Linked DNA regions of Homo sapiens: region 2 is linked to region 1. Evidence: fine-mapped expression QTL. Tissue or cell type: whole blood. Region 1 holds a variant in brackets; the other region holds the start of a gene. All regions are shown on one strand. Distances are from middle to middle.

What was found. PIP is the estimated chance that this variant, and not a neighbour inherited with it, causes the effect.
Region 2: RBM3 starts here. The variant in region 1 is fine-mapped to the expression of RBM3 in whole blood (TOPMed, PIP above 0.99).

Annotation. Positions count from the first base shown.
Region 1 is chrX:48,542,210-48,550,471 of GRCh38, forward strand. It overlaps TBC1D25 (TBC1 domain family member 25), which reads left to right. Exons shown (of 6, transcript NM_002536.4): 3 at 2,660-2,814. Among named protein-coding and RNA genes, the nearest start is that of TBC1D25, 6.6 kb to the left of the region's middle. The variant G/A (reference allele first, on the strand shown) is at 3,410.
Region 2 is chrX:48,569,709-48,577,708 of GRCh38, forward strand. It overlaps RBM3 (RNA binding motif protein 3), which reads left to right and starts at 4,776. Exons shown (of 7, transcript NM_006743.5): 1 at 4,776-4,865; 2 at 5,460-5,575; 3 at 5,853-5,959; 4 at 6,606-6,711; 5 at 6,800-6,896; 6 at 7,318-7,401; 7 at 7,757-8,000. The coding sequence starts at 5,473. The coding sequence ends at 7,378. RefSeq lists a cis regulatory region at 3,909-4,894 and enhancers at 4,651-5,850, 4,834-5,103.

The DNA of each region.
Region 1 (8,262 bases):
CCGGGCTGCAGTGCAGTGGCGCAGTCTCAGCTCACTGCAACCTCCGCTTCCCGGGTTCAAGTGATTCTCCTGCCTCAGCCTCCCAAGTAGCTGGGATTACAGGCACGCACCACCACGCCTGCTAATTTTTGTATTTTTATTAGAGACAAGGTTTCACCATGTTGGTCAGGCTAGTCTCGAACACCTGACCTCAAGTTACCTGTCCACCTCGGCCTCCCAAAGTGCTAGGATTACAGGTGTAAGCCCCCGCACCCAGTCCCAGATAGTTTTTTGATCTTCTCTTTTTTTTTTTTTTGGAGACAGAGTCTCACTCTGTCACTTAGGTTGGAGTGCAGTGGTCCGATGTTGGCTCATTGCAGCCTTTGCCTCCCGGGTTCAAGTGATTCTCATGCCTCAGCCTCCAGAGTAGCTGGGATTACAGGTGTGCACCACCACACTCAGCTAATTTTCATGAGGTTGGTCAGGCTGGTCTCAAACTCCTGATCTCAAGTGATCCGCCCACCTCGGCCTCCCAAAGTGTTAGGATTACAGGCACGTGAGCCTCCGCACCCGGCCAATTTTTTGTATCTTTAGTAGAGACAGGGTTTCGCCATGTTGCCCAGGGCAGTCTCAAACTCCTGAGCTCAAGCAATCCGCCCGCCTCAGCCTCTCAAAGTGCTGGGATTACAGGTGAGCCACTGCGCCCAGCCAAATGCATTGTCAACTTACAGTATTTCCAACTTACGATGAGTTTATTGGTACATAACCCTGTCATAAGTCAAGAAGCATCTGTATTGTCATAATTGTTCTATTATTGTTAATCTCTTACTGTGCCTAATTTATCAATTAAACCTTATCATAGGTATGTATGTATATGAAAAAAAACATAGTATATATAGGGCTTGGTACTATCTGCAGTTTCAGGCATCCACTCGGGGGGGTCTTGGAATGTATCCCCTGTAGATAAAGAGGGACTACTGTATTTGGAAACATCTAGTCATAGGATAAATTCCTAGCAGTGGTATTGCCAGGTAAAAGGGTATTTGCTTTAAAAAAAATTTTTTTTTTGAGACAGTCTCATTCTGTCGTCCAGGCTGGAGTGCAGTGGTGTGATCTCGTCTCATTGCAACCTCCACCTCCTGAGTTCAAGCAATTCTCCTGCCTCGGCCTCCTGAGTAGCTGGTACTACAGGCGTGCGCCACCATGCCCGGCTAATTTTTGTATTTTTAGTAGAGATGGGGTTTCACCGTGTTGGCCAGGATCGTCTCGATCTCCTGACCTCGTGATCCACCCGCCTCAGCCTCCCAAAGTGCTGGGATTACAGGCATGAGCCACCGCACCTGGCCTGCTTTTTGAACTATTAATGGGTGTTTCCAAAATGCTCTCCAGACAGGTTTTATCAATTTATGATCTCAGCCGGGCGCTGTGGCTCATGCCTGTAATCCCAGCACTTTGGGAGGCTGAGGCAGGTGGATCACGAGGTCAGGAGATCAAGACCATCCTGGCTAACACGGTGAAACTCCGTCTCTACTAAAAATACAAAAAATTCTCCAGGCGTGGTGGTGGGCGCCTGTAGTCCCAGCTACTTGGGAGGCTGAGGCAGGAGAATGGCATGGGCCCGGGAGGCGGAGCTTGCAGCGAGCCGAGATCGCACCATTGCACTCCAGACTGGGCGACAGAGTGAGACTCCGTCTCAAAAAAAAAAAAAAACGAATTTATGATCTCATCAGCAGCACATAAATGCCTGTTTCCCTCACACCCTCGCAAACATTGGTTACTGTAAAACTGCAAAATTTGCCAATCTGATAGCTGAAAAGTGGTGTCTCTTGGGGGCAGATGTGATAGTCATTTTGTTGTGATTTTGGAGGAATACATACACATGGTAAGAAATTCAAACAGTACACAATTGTTGGGTATTTAGGATGTTTCCATGGTTATGATGAGCATCACGCAACAAACTTCTTTACATAGTTGCACAAGTATAGCTGAAAAATTCTTAGTTGTTATTAGACTTTCTTACATAAACATTTTTGTTGTGAAAAATAACAAACACAGATTGCTTTTTTTTTATGTAGTAAGAAGGCTGCTTTCTTCCCACTTCTGTCCCACATCTACCCCAGAGGGGACCAACTTTTTTTTTTTTTTTTGAGATGGAGTCTTGCTCTGTCACCCAGGTTGGAGTGCAATGCCACAATCTTGGCTCACTGCAACCTCCACCTCCCAGGTTCAAGCGATTCTCCTGCCTCAGCCTCCTGAGTAGCTGGGATTACAGGCACCTGCCACCACACCCAGCTAATTTTTTTTGTATTTTTAGTACAGAAGGGGTTTCACCATGTTGACCAGGCTAGTCTCAAACTCCTGACCTCAGGTGATCCACCCACCTCGGCCTCCCAAAGTGCGGAGATTATAGGCGTGAGCCACTGCACCCGGCCAACATTTTACCAGTTTCCAATGTGACCTCCAGATACAAGCAGGTGTGTACCTGCTTGTATGTGTTTGTGTAACAAAGTGGGTATAAATGACCTGATCTCAGGCTGCCCATAATCCTTGGCACAGTACCTTGCACATAGTAGGAAGTTGTTTTCAACGCCTTCTATATTACCCTCCTTGTTTTGGAAACTGTCCCTGAGGCCTCCAGGGCACCAGGGGCCCTGAGAGCTCCCTCGTATCCCCTGTCCAGGAAGAAGAACTTTGGCATCAGCTACCTGGGCCGGGACCGGCTAGGACAGGAAGTTTACCTCTCACTTCTATCTGACTGGGACCTCAGCACAGCCTTTGCCACTGCCTCCAAACCTTACCTGCAATTGCGTGTAGATATTCGGCCCTCGGAGGACAGTGAGTACTCAGTGCCCCCAGGAGCACTGCTCTGGAACCCCTTTACCCCATAGGGTGATGCTACCCCTCACAGTACACTCCCTCATGGTGGGATGGGTAGCAAGGTATCCTAGCTATAGATCCTGGCTCAGCCACTAGGCCACAATTTCTTCACTTGTAAAGAGATAATTGTATCTTAGAACCATTGTGAGGCCTTGTATCTTAGAACCATTGTGAGGGGAAATTCATATAAAATGCCTGGAACAGTGCATGACTGCATAATGAAGGCTCAGAAAGTGTTATCTCTAATAATGATAATTATATTGTATTATACTATTATAACATATAACCGAGTAATGTATGTAATAATTAGATATAATGCAGATTTATAATATAGTATAACGGTATAGCTTTAGCATTATGTATTTCAGTTATAATACCTAAATATAACAATGCGTATTATAATAATGCTAGTTGTGTTTATTCATTCAGTCATTCTGCACCCATATTCATTTGTTTGTATTCTTGCTCACTCATTCATTTGTTCCCTTGACCTCTCAGCCACTTTTTCTCTTCTCATCTTTGTTCTTCCACTCTTGCCTATTCTGGTCCCTGC[G/A]AGCACACAGATAAATTAGGACGTGGTCTCAAAATTTGATTACAGACCATACATTAGATAATTGTATCAGTATTAAATTTCCTGGGTGTGTGTCTTAGTCGTTTTGTGCTACTATAACAGAATACCACAGACTGAGGAATTTGTAAAGAAGAGAAATTTATTTCTCACAGTTTTGGAGACTGGGAAGTCCAAGATCAAGGTGCTGGCAGGTTGTGTGTCTAGTGAGGGCTTTCTTGCTGCATCCTCACATGACAGAAGAGCAGAAGAGAGTGAACCCACACCCTCAACCTCTTTATAAGAGCCCAAATCCGCTGGGCACGGTGGCTCATGCCTGTAGTCCCAGCACTTTGGGAGGCTGAGGCAGGCGGATCACCTGAAGTCAGGAGTTCGAGACCATCCTGGCCAACATGGTGAAACCCTGTCTCTACTAAAAAAAATACAAAAATTAGCCGGGTGTAGTGGCACATGCCTATAATCCCAGCTACTCGGGAGGCTGAGGCATGAGAATCGCTTGAACCCGAAAAGCAGAGGTTGCAGTGAGCCAAGATCTTGCCACTGCACTCCAGCCTGGGTGACAGAGCGAGACTTCATCTCAAAAAAAAAAAAAAAAAGAGGCTGAGCACGGTGGCTCACGCCTGTAATCCCAGCAGTTTAGGAGGCCGAGGCGGGCAGATCACAAGGTCAGGAGATCGAGACCACCCTGGCTAACACGGTGAAACCCTGTCTTTACTAAAAATACAAAAAAATAGCCGGGCGTGGTGGCGGGTGCCTGTAGTCCCAGCTACTCGGGAGGCTGAGGCAGGAGAATGGCATGAACCCGGGAGGCGGAGCTTGCAGTGAGCCAAGATCGCACCACTGCACTCCAGCCTGGGCAACAGAGCAAGACTCCATCTCAAAAAATAAATAAAATAAAAAATAAAAAAAGAGCCCTAATCCCATCTGTGAGAGCTCTACCCTCAGGACTTAATCACCTCTTAAAGGCCCCCACCTCTTAATATGATCACATTGGTAATTAAATTGCAACACATGAATTTGGAAGGACACATTCAAACCATAGCAGTGTGGTAGTGGTATCATATCTATTGAAGGAAAATATCCTTGTTCTTGGGAAAGACACAGTTAAGTATGAAGGGGTAAAATGTCATGATGTCTGCAAATAAGTTGGCAAAAATAATGTGTTTATATACAGAGAGAGTGAGATAAAGCAAATGTGGCCCAAAAAAATGTTAATAGAGGATCTAGATGAAGTATGTATGGGTGTTCAGTGTATTCTTTTAACTTTATTGTAGGTTCAAAATTGTTTTAAATAGTTGTGGAGTGGAAGATGTGGTTCCCAGCCTCAGGAAACTCATGTGCCCATTTGGGATGAGTCGAGCACTTTATTGATGTCATAATAACATATAACTAGCTAATGTGTAGTGAACACTTAGGGCCATTCTGTGCACATAATATTTTTTCACTGAATTGTCAAAATAATCCTATAGAGTAGGGACAATCATTTTCCCCATATTATAGATGAGGAAACTGAGGCTCAGAGAGGTGACAGGACTCGTCCCAGTTATACAGACAGTAAGTTGAAGAGCAAGATTTGAACTCAGGCAGTGGCTGAACTGGCTCCAGAGTCCTTGTTCTTAACCATTTAACTCTACAACATTTTGGACTTGTTAAAATTGGCAGCTTTGCAAAAGAGAGACAGAGGAGAGAGAGAAACAAGAGTCAGAGGGAAAGATAGTGACAGAGATGGGCAGGAAGCCAAATAGGAAAAGCCAGGTAGCCAGACACACAGGAACCTCTGCCACTGAGTAGCCATATGTGCTTATGTCAGTCACTTAATTCCCTGGGCCTTGTTTTCCTCACCTGTTAAAGAGACACAGTAGCACTATTTCAGGAAAAAAATCAAATCTGCATGGCTACGAAACATGTGGAGAAAACCCCAAGTGCATGAGAACTGGGACGAATGCCAGTAAAGCAGAGAGACAGACAGAAAGACACCCAGTAGTCTGGCAGGAATACATCTTTAAAAGGTTATCTTTTTAGGCCAGGCGCCGTGGCTCACGCCTGTAATCCCAGCACTTTGGGAGGCCGAGGCGGGTGGATCACCTGAGGTCAGGAGTTCGAGACCAGCCTGGCCAAACATGGCGAAACCCTGTCTCTACTAAAAATACAGAAATTAGCCGGGCGTGGTGGTAGGCGCCTGTAATCCCAGCTACTCGGGAGACTGAGGCAGGAGAATTGCTTGAGCCTGGGAGGCGGAGGTTGCAATGATCCGAGCTCGTGCCACCGCACTCCAGCCTGAGTGACAGAACTAGACTCCATCTCAAAAAAAAAAAAAAAAAAGCCCTCTGTCTTATTTACCAAATTCCTGCACAACATCGGTCTGTTTCTGAATTCCTGATTCTCTTACGTTGATCTATTTATTAAATTATAAGCCAATTCTATGTTGTTTTAATCATTGTAGTAGTTTGTTTTCTGTTTGTTTGTTTGGTTTTGAGGGTTTTTTTTTTGTTTTTTTTTTGAGACAGGGTCTCACTCTGTCATCCTTGCTGGAGTGCAGTGGCCCAATCTCAGCTCACTGCAGCCTCCACCTCCCAGGCTCAAGCAATTGTCCCACGTCAGCCTCCTGAGTAGCTGGGCCTATAGGCACATGCCCCCATGCCCAGCTAATTTTTGTATTTTTTGTAGAGACAGGGTTTCGCCGTGTTGCCCAGGCTGGTCTTGAACTCCTGGACTCAAGCAGTCTGCCCGCCTCAGCCTCCCAAAGTGCTGGGATTACAAGCAAGAGCCACCGCACCCAGCCTTAATCATTATAGTTTTATGATATGTTTTCATGTTTTCCTTTTTAAAAAATTTTCTTGAATATTCTTGTTCACTTACTGTTCTTTTTATTTAATAAATCAGCTTATTATTCCATTAAAATCCTGACGGGAATTTGATTGGAGTCATATTTTTAAGAGAAACTAATCTTTCATTACCCAGTAAATACATTCTTATTAAAAATAAAAGCATTTTAAATAATGCTGAAGTCTCCTGGGAACGCTATGCCTAATCTCAATCCCCTACCCTACCCTTTTTGCCCCGAGGGAATCGGTTTGATGTGTAACTTTGCATGTCCTTTACTTATTTACACTCCCTACACACACATTTATCCACATATGTGAGTATATTCATATTTGCGTGTCTGTACACATAAACGGTATGTGTTTAACATAAGGTATTCTACACATTAATATGTAAGTGTCCAATATATGGAGCTATCATTAGACATATTAATGGCATTCTCATGATCATTTTCATGGCTGTGAAAGCAACAGACATGTTGGGACTGTTTGGATGGCCCAGTCCCTCTTTCTGGGAAAAAGCCAGTTTCTGTCACCTCTACAGTTGGGAGATTACAAAGCCTAGACCTTTGACCAATTTGTACTTTTCCGATATGAATCTTTTTTCTTTTTGAGACTCTCTTTGTCACCAAGGCTGGAATGCAGTGACGCAAATATGGCCCACTGCAGCCTTGACCTCAAGCTCTCCTCCTGCCTCAGGCTTTCAAGTAGCTGGGACTACAGGTGTGCACCACCATGCCCAGCTAATTTTTGTATTTTTTGTAGAGACATGGTTTTGCCATGTTGGCCAGGCTGGTCTCGAACTTCTGACCTCAAGTGATCCACCCACCTCGGCCTCTCAAAGTGTTTGGATTACAGGCGGGAGCCACCGTGCCCAGCCCCCAACCTCCTTTCTATCATAGGTACTGCAAATATTTTTCCCAGTTGATCTTTTGTTTTTTGGCTTTGCTTACGGGATGGATCTGTTTTGTCCTATCAAAATTAAACATTTGATTGCACGCCTACACAGATATCTATCTTTTTCTTTATGATTTCTGAGTTTCTCCTTTTTATTGCAGGTGGAGGGACAGAGTTTCACTCTCATTGCCCAGGCTGGAGTGCGATGGCGCGATCTCGGCTCACTGCAACCTCCGCCTCCTGGGTTCAAGTGATTCTCCTGCCTCAGCCTCCCAAGTAGCTGGGATTACAGGCATGTGCCACTACACCTGGCTACTTTTGTATTTTTAGTAGAGATGGAGTTTCACCATGTTGGTCAGGCTGGTATCGAATTCCTGATCTCAAGTGATCCACCTGCCTGGGCCTCCCAAAGTGGTGGGATTACAGGCATGAGCCACTGTGCCTGGCTGAGTTTCTCCTATTACTTTGGAACATGTTCCCCATCCATAAGCTTATACAAATATTCTATATTTTCTTCTACTATGCTTATTGTTTTCTTTTTTACATATAAATCTTTTCTCTGTCAGCATTGTGATAAGCAGACCTAGCTTTAAAAAAATCAAGATAGTCAATTATGCCAGCATCATTTTTTTTAATTTAATTTTTTTTTTTGAGACGAAGTTTTACTCTTATCGCCCAGGCAGGAGTGCAGTTGCACAATCTCAGCTCACTGCAGCCGCCGTCTCCTGGGTTCAAGCAATTCTCCTGACTCAGCCTCCCAAATAGCTGGGATTACAGGTGCCCGCCACCATGCCTAGCTAATTTTTGTATTTTTAGTAGAGATGAGGTTTTGCCATGTTGGCCAGGTTGGTGTCGAACTTATGACCTCAGGTGATCCACCCACTTCAGCCTCCCAAAGTGCTGAGATTACAGGCATGAGCCACTGCGCCCGGCCTGCCAGCATCATTTATTAAATAATCACCTTTTCTGCAGTGATTCGAAATGCCACGTTTGTCACATATTCAGTTTCCATATATACAAGCTTGGATTTATTTCTGGGCTTTCTATTGCATTCTACCAATGGGCTCTATTTGTCTACTGCTGTGCTAACACCATGTTATTTTTATGACAGTGGTTTTG
Region 2 (8,000 bases), 27 kb after region 1:
AAATCAAAAGCATTTCTGTATAGCAGCAATAACCAACAAAAAAAAAAAGTAGGAATGAATTTAATACAAGAGACCTCTATTTTAAAGAATTTAAACTCTAACAATAGAAATTGATCTGAATAAAAGAGAGACATTTTATGCTCTTTGCTGGAAAGATTTTGGTAATATATAAGTTATTTTTAACAAATTATCCCAAAACTTAGTGGCTAAAACAATACACATTTATTATTTCACATGGTTTTGGAGAGTCAGGATTCTGAGAGTGGCTTAACTGGGTGGTTCTGACTCAGAGCCTCTCATGAGGCTACAATCAGGATGTTGGCCAGGACTGCAGTTATCTGAAGGCTGGGATCCACCTTTAAGAAGGCTTGCTCACATGGCTGTTGGCAAGAGGCCTTACTTTCTTGCCACCTAGATCCCTCCATAGGGCTGCTCATGACATACCAGCTAATGTCCCACATAATGAGCAGTCTGTGTGACAGAGAGCATGAAGCAGATGTGCCTTTTACAGCCTGGTCTTGGAAATGACACACTATCACTTCCACCTCATTCTGTGCTTTACAATTGAGTCACTAAGTCCAGCACACATGCAAGTGGAAGGAAGTTAGGCTCCAACTCTTGACGAGTACAGTATCAGAGTGTGACCATATCTTAAAACCTCCACAGTTAATATTATTAAGATGTTATTTTGGCCGGGCATGGTGGCTCACACCTGTAATCCCAGCACTTTGGGAGGCCGAGGTGGGTGGATCACCTGAGGTCAGGAGTTTGAGACCAGCCTGACCAACATAGACAAACCCCGTCTCTGCTAAAAATACAAAATTAGCCGAGCATAATGGTGGGTGCCTGTAGTTCCAGCTACCCAGGAGGCTGAAGCAGGAGAATTGCTTGAACCCGGGAGGCGGAGGTTGCAGTGAGCCGAGATTGCACCATTTTACTCCAGCCTGGGCAACAAGAGCGAAACTCCATCTCAAAAAAAAAGACGTTATTTCTCCCAAAATGTAAAAATTCAATGCACTCTCAATAACACTTCCATTACTTTTTTTTTTAATGTTTTGAAACAGGGTCTCACTTTGTTGCCCAGGCTGGAGTGCAGTGGCACGATCATAGCTCACTGCAGACTCCAACTCCTGGGTTCAAGCGATCCTCCTGCCTCAGCCTCCCAGGTAGCTGGGATTTGGGCGAGAGCCACCATGCCTGACCTCATTACTTCTTTTTGTTAGAACTGCAATACACTTACATTAGAATTTAGAATAGTAATGAATCATGGACAGTTAAGACAGCCTTCAAAGAAAGCGTTATGATGGGGATTTGCCCACTAGATATTAAGACATATTAAAGGTGTTAGTAATAAAAGGGAAAAAAAAAACAACAACAAACCTATATTGGCCCAAGAGCTAAGAAGTAGACCAATTAGAAGAGAAGGCCGGGCACGGTGGCTCACACCTGTAATACCAGCACTTTTGGAGGCCGAGGTGGGCAGATCACAAGGTCAGGAGATCCAGACCACGGTGAAACCCCGCCTCTACTAAAAAATACAAAAAAAAAAAATTGGCTGGGTGCGGTAGCAGGCGCCTGTAGTCCCAGCTACTCGGGAGGCTGAGGCGTGAACCTGGAAGGCAGAGCTTACAGTGAGCCGAGATCGCGCCACTGCACTCCAGCCTGAGCGACAGAGCGAGACTCCGTCTCAAAAAAAAAGACCATCCTGGCCAACATGGTGAAACCCCATCTCTACTAAAAATACAAAAATTAGCTGGGCGTGGTTGCACGCGCCTGTAGTCCCAGCTACTCAGGAGGCTGAGGCAGGAAAATCACTTGAACCCAGGAGGCGGAGGTTGCAGTGAGCCAAGATCGCGCCACTGCACTCCAGCCTGGCGACAGAGTGAGACTCTGTCAAAAAAAAAAAAAAAGCTCAGAAGTCAGGTACAATAGTGCTCCCCTGTAATCCCAGTTACTCAGGAGGCTGAGTTGGGGAGAATGCTTGAGGCCAGGAGTCAGCCTGGGCTCATCTCTTAAAAACAACAATAACAACAAAACCAGCAACAAACCACCTCAGAGACAGACCCATATATCTATGGAACTTGATACATGATAGAGGTGGTAAAACACACACAGGGATGGGACAGATTGCTTAATAGATGGTGATGGGGCATCTGGCTCATGACACAGAGAAAAATAAAATTGGAGCTCTATCTCACACCATATACAAGGACGAACTCTACATGGATTAAAGACCTAAATGTGGCCGGGTGCGGTGGCTCATGCCTGTAATCCCAGCACTTTGGGAGGCCGAGGCAGGCGAATCACTTGAGGCCAGGAGTTCAAGACCAGCCTGGCCAACATGGCAAAAACCTGTCTCTACTAAAAATGCAAAAATTAGCCAGGTGTGGTGGCACACACCTGTAATCCTAGCTACGCAGCAGGCTGAGGCAGGAGAATTGCTTGAACCCAGGAGGCGGAGGTTGCAGTGAGCCGAGATAGTGCCATTGCACTCCAGCCTGGGCAACAAGAGCGAAACTCTGTCAAAAAAAAAAAAAAAGAAAGAAAGAAAGAAACTGTAGGGGAACATTTTGTGACCTGGGAAAGAGAATGATTTCTTTAAAAGCACAGACCAGGCCGGGCGTGGTGGCTCACGCCTGTAATCCCAGCACTTTGGGAGGCCGAGGCAGGCGGATCATGAAGTCAGGAGTTTGAGAACAGCCTGAACAACATGGTGAAACCTCATCTCTACTAAAAATACAAAAATTAGCTGGGCATAGTGGCACATGCCCGTAATCCCAGCTACTCAGGAGACTAAAGCAGGAGAATCACTTGAACCTGGGAGGCGGAGGTTGCAGTGAGCTGAGATCATGCCACTGCACTCCAGCCTGAGCGACAGAGTGAGACTCCGTCTCAGAAAAAAGCACAGAACATAGGGGGAAAAATGATTATATCAAAATTATGGATCTTTATTCAACTAAGTTTACTGCTTACAAAGTTAATAACACAAATGCCAGAGCTGGAGAGGCTATTTCCAACACCTAAGGGATTAATAATTAGACTATGTGAGGAATCCCTGACAATAACAGGAAGATAAATATGGGAATTACCCCAACAGGAATATGGATGTACTGTATTCTGTATGTTAGCAAATTTGGTCTGTGTTGGGCAAATTCATTCTATGGATAAGAAATTTAGCCTCTGAGGGCAAACTAACTTATTCTTCGTTGATGTGGCGCTCAGAAGTGAAAAATCTGTCAAATCCATTTATTGTAAAGGTGGCCAAGACACTGAAGACTAAATTGTGAACAGTGGGCTCAGACACTACTTGATTGGGATAAGTCTATTGTGTATTGCGAAAGTCCCTTCTGTGAATCAAGGGCTCAGTTACTTTTTTTTTTTTTTTGAGACTGAGTCTTGCTCTGTCGCCCAAGCTGGAGTGCAGTGGCATGATCTCAGCTCACTGCAACCTCCACCTCCCGGGTTCAAGCGATTATCCCGCCTCAGCCTCCTGAGTAGCTGGGACTACAGGTGCCTACCACCACGCCCGGCTAATTTTTTTTTTTTTTTGTATTGTTAGTAGAGACAGGGTTTCACCATATTGGCCAGGGTAGTCTTGAACTCCTGACCTTGTGATCTGCCCACTTCGGCCTCCCAAAGTGCTGGGATTACAGGCATGAGCCACTGCGCCCGGCAAGGGCTCAGTTACTTTCGAAGAGAGCAAAAATTGCTCTATGGATTGGGATTTACAACCTCTGAAGATCGTAGCATCCTCTTTTGTTTTGTTTTGTTTTCACCCAGGCTGGAGTGCAATGGCGTGGTCTCGGCTCACTGCAACCTCCGCCTCCCGGGTTCAAGCGATTTTCCAGCCTCAGCCTCCCGAGTAGGTGGGACTACAGGCACGTGCCACCACACCCAGCTAATTTTTTTTTTCTTTTTTTTTTTTTTTTTTTTTTTTTGTATTTTTAGTAGAGATGGGGTTTCACCATGTTGGCCATGCAGGTCTCGAACTCCTGAACTCGTGAACCGCCCGCTTTGGCCTCCCAAAGTGCTGGGAATACAGGCGTGAGCCACCGCGCCCGGCCAGCATCCTGTTTTGTAAAAGCCATCTCAGGCAGTCTATTGGTGAGAAAATTAAGGGGCTGGCTTCACGCCAGCAGTCAGACAAGGGTGAGGGCTGAAGTCAGAGATGAGATGGAATGACGCCAGGGAAAAGGGTCCCATGACAGGCGGCTAGATGTTGAGCACAGAGGAGAAAGAGTAGGAGTCAGGGTCAAACCTTAAAACGTTGGGTCTGACATCATGGACTGTGAAGGGTGATGACATCAGTGACGGTGGGGGATAAAATGTCAGGCCTTTAAAGGGTATGAGGTTAAAGAACTAGAAGGTGAAGGAGGTTAACATCAGAGAATGGCAGGGACCTAGAGGAAGACGACTACGATGGTGAGGAAGACATCCGATCCAGCGGGGGAAATGATGGCAAGGACGGGAGGATGATGTCAGGGACAGCAAGTAGTATGAGATTGAGAAGGTTCCTTTGTGGAAGGGATAAAGGCAGCTCAGCCGGTTGTGGGGGGGATGCTGACGTTTAGGGTGCACCAGCTGTTCAAAAGTCGACCCCATTTCCGGAAACACCCCATTTCCGGAAACACCCCATTTCGCGGAGAACACTGCTCCCTTCGCTTTGCTGTCCCTTCCTCTCCCCACCACTCCGCTCCTGCTGGCCTCAGCCAATCAGCACGCACGCCGGGACGCGCAAGGGGAACGTTCCGGGACGTTCTCGCTACGTACTCTTTATCAATCGTCTTCCGGCGCAGCCCCGTCCCTGTTTTTTGTGCTCCTCCGAGCTCGCTGTTCGTCCGGGTTTTTTACGTTTTAATTTCCAGGTAAGTTGCATATGTCCTGCGAAACGGCGGCTCCTCGCCACACACGCGCCGCGCCGGCCGTGACCGGGGAATAGCGAGTGGGGAGAGTAATGGCCACTGACACGTAGGCTTGGCTTTCTCTGGGACGGGCGGGTCCCGTGCTTGGAGGTGAAACATTTCGGTTGGTGGGAGGCCGGCGCGCTGTATCTGAGTGTGAGGCCTACCGGGAGGGACTGGTGGCGTCGGTGGTGGCAGTGACCACGCGACAGCCGACACTTACTTTCCTTATCCCACGTGGCCGCCGCCATCTTGTTCTGCCGGCGTTAAGGGAACGCAGGGATGTTCTGGGCTTGCGCAGTGGCACAAAATGACGGGCGTGGCGGCTATGAATGTGAGAGCATGCGCAATGTGGCCCCCTAATGGTGGCTGCGCTGAGCCAGCTCCTCAGATTACCACCTTATTGGCCGCCTTTCTCAGCTTTTCTGTAGTTACCCATATTTTGTTCCTCTTTCTTGTCTATTTTCTGTGCTTTTTCTCTGCTTTCCGTCTCGCTATTTTCTCACATCTCCATTTTCTTTCTCCTTCCTGCCACCATTCTTCATGTTCTTCCCACAGGACTTGAACTGCCATGTCCTCTGAAGAAGGAAAGCTCTTCGTGGGAGGGCTCAACTTTAACACCGACGAGCAGGCACTGGAAGACCACTTCAGCAGTTTCGGACCTATCTCTGAGGGTGAGACGGGCCATACTCACAATGGGGGTTGGTGAGAGAAAGTCTGGGATCCTTGCATTTCAAGGAGTATTAACTGAAAAGTTAGGACCCACGCCTCCAAATTCTTTTTCTTCCTAAGCCTATGGTGTAGACTAAGGATGAGGGGAAGCGTCTTTGGGATTAGTGGGAGCGCTCCGTTTTCCCTACCTATGCCATCTCCTTTTCCGGCCACCCTTTGCTACTTAACCTTTGGGGTACTGACTGGTCCACATTGCTCCATCTTCTCTCCCTCTCACAGTGGTCGTTGTCAAGGACCGGGAGACTCAGCGGTCCAGGGGTTTTGGTTTCATCACCTTCACCAACCCAGAGCATGCTTCAGTTGCCATGAGAGCCATGAACGGAGAGGTGGGGCCTCCTATCTGCAGAGGGACCTTGTCCCCATCTGCGGCTTCCTTCATTCTTTTTGTTTTTCCCTCTGTGTCTGCTCGGGGCAGCGTGGCCACCAAGCCCCGCAGTGCCCACTCACAGGAGCATGACTGCCTTTTGTTCTAGGGGGTGGAGGGCAGCGGCAGACAGAGCCTGGCCGCCTGGGAGGCGACGACTGGTCCTGCATGAGGCCGAGAAGCCACCTGTGGATGGTTGACCTGCCTTGGGCTTAGGTAGTAGAGTCTGCAGACCTGTGGGCCTGGCCCGGAGAGGACCTCGTGAGTCTTCTGACATGGACTCTGAAGCCTCAAACCAAGAGAGGTGTCTGTCTAGCCCTGATAGTCGGGCAGCTTAGAGGAGTGGGGAGGAGAACTCAGCCTGAGTTCAGTCAAGATGTAAGTAGTAGCAAGGGGAACATGGTGCATTCAGGTCATTTTGTGTGGGATTCTATAGCTCCTGATGAAGCCATTCTGGGGTAAAGGAGCTTATTCTGGAACATGGCACCCAGAACCTGGTGCCCAGCAGGAATTTTTGGCCTCTTTTGCCCACTTACCCTTGCCTGCTCTTCCCTCACCATTGCCCTGACTGACTGCCAACCCATCATCCTTGTGTCTCCCACACTTAGTCTCTGGATGGTCGTCAGATCCGTGTGGATCATGCAGGCAAGTCTGCTCGGGGAACCAGAGGAGGTGGCTTTGGGGCCCATGGGCGTGGTCGCAGCTACTCTAGAGGTGAGTGCAGTGATCGTTTTGATCATGGGGTGAGAGGGAGAGTTGCCTATGTGTGGACAACTGCCATTTAAATATTTTTCTGCTCTAGGTGGTGGGGACCAGGGCTATGGGAGTGGCAGGTATTATGACAGTCGACCTGGAGGGTATGGATATGGATATGGACGTTCCAGAGACTATAATGGCAGGTGGGTAGCCAAAGGGCTGGGATGTTCTCCTATTGCTTCCCTCTCCTTAAGAACTCAGCGCCTGGGTGTTCATGCATACCACACCTTGCTGTTACTAATGTGTACCTAAAATGAGTATGAAATTTAGCATTTTAAGTTAATTGTGTAGTCATATAGTTGCGACATGGTAAAGTATACTATATATGTTGTGCTGTGTGGGTTATATAACTATATTGCTTTAACATGTAATATGATTTAATATACTGCGTATAAATCGTATGCCATAAAACTGTTTACTGTGATACTCATATGCTTAACATATCCTGTTTTTGATACGTAAGGTTTATGTTATGACCCATACTGTAAAATGTGACGCATATAATTACAGTGGTATATATAATGCAGTACCAGAAAACTTTTGTGTGTTTTTTTTCCCCCCCAGAAACCAGGGTGGTTATGACCGCTACTCAGGAGGAAATTACAGAGACAATTATGACAACTGAAATGAGACATGCACATAATATAGGTGAGACTTGGATATCGGCATTGAGTGAACCTGTTTGTCACACTCTGTCATGACCCTCTCACCTTTTCTGGCAAGACTGCTCTGCATTTCTGCTGCCCTCATACCTCACCCAGCCAACCTACCAAACATTCCTAGCTAGGCCTTCCTTGCTCTCAGGTGCATATCAGAGCAAGTTTGCTAGGGGGTGGGATCTGAAAACCCATCTCCTATAATCTTCTACTCTTGTGTGGGATGGAGGAAATGAAGGTGTGTCCCTGTTGTCCAACCCTCAGCATCTTCATCAGCTCTAGGAGGTGAGCATGTTGTCAGCTGTTACTTCATGACATCACAATTCTCCCCCTCTTGCTGTTCCCAGATACACAAGGAATAATTTCTGATCCAGGATCGTCCTTCCAAATGGCTGTATTTATAAAGGTTTTTGGAGCTGCACCGAAGCATCTTATTTTATAGTATATCAACCTTTTGTTTTTAAATTGACCTGCCAAGGTAGCTGAAGACCTTTTAGACAGTTCCATCTTTTTTTTTAAATTTTTTCTGCCTATTTAAAGACAAATTATGGGACGTTTGTAGAACCTGAGTATTTTTCTTTTTACCAGTTT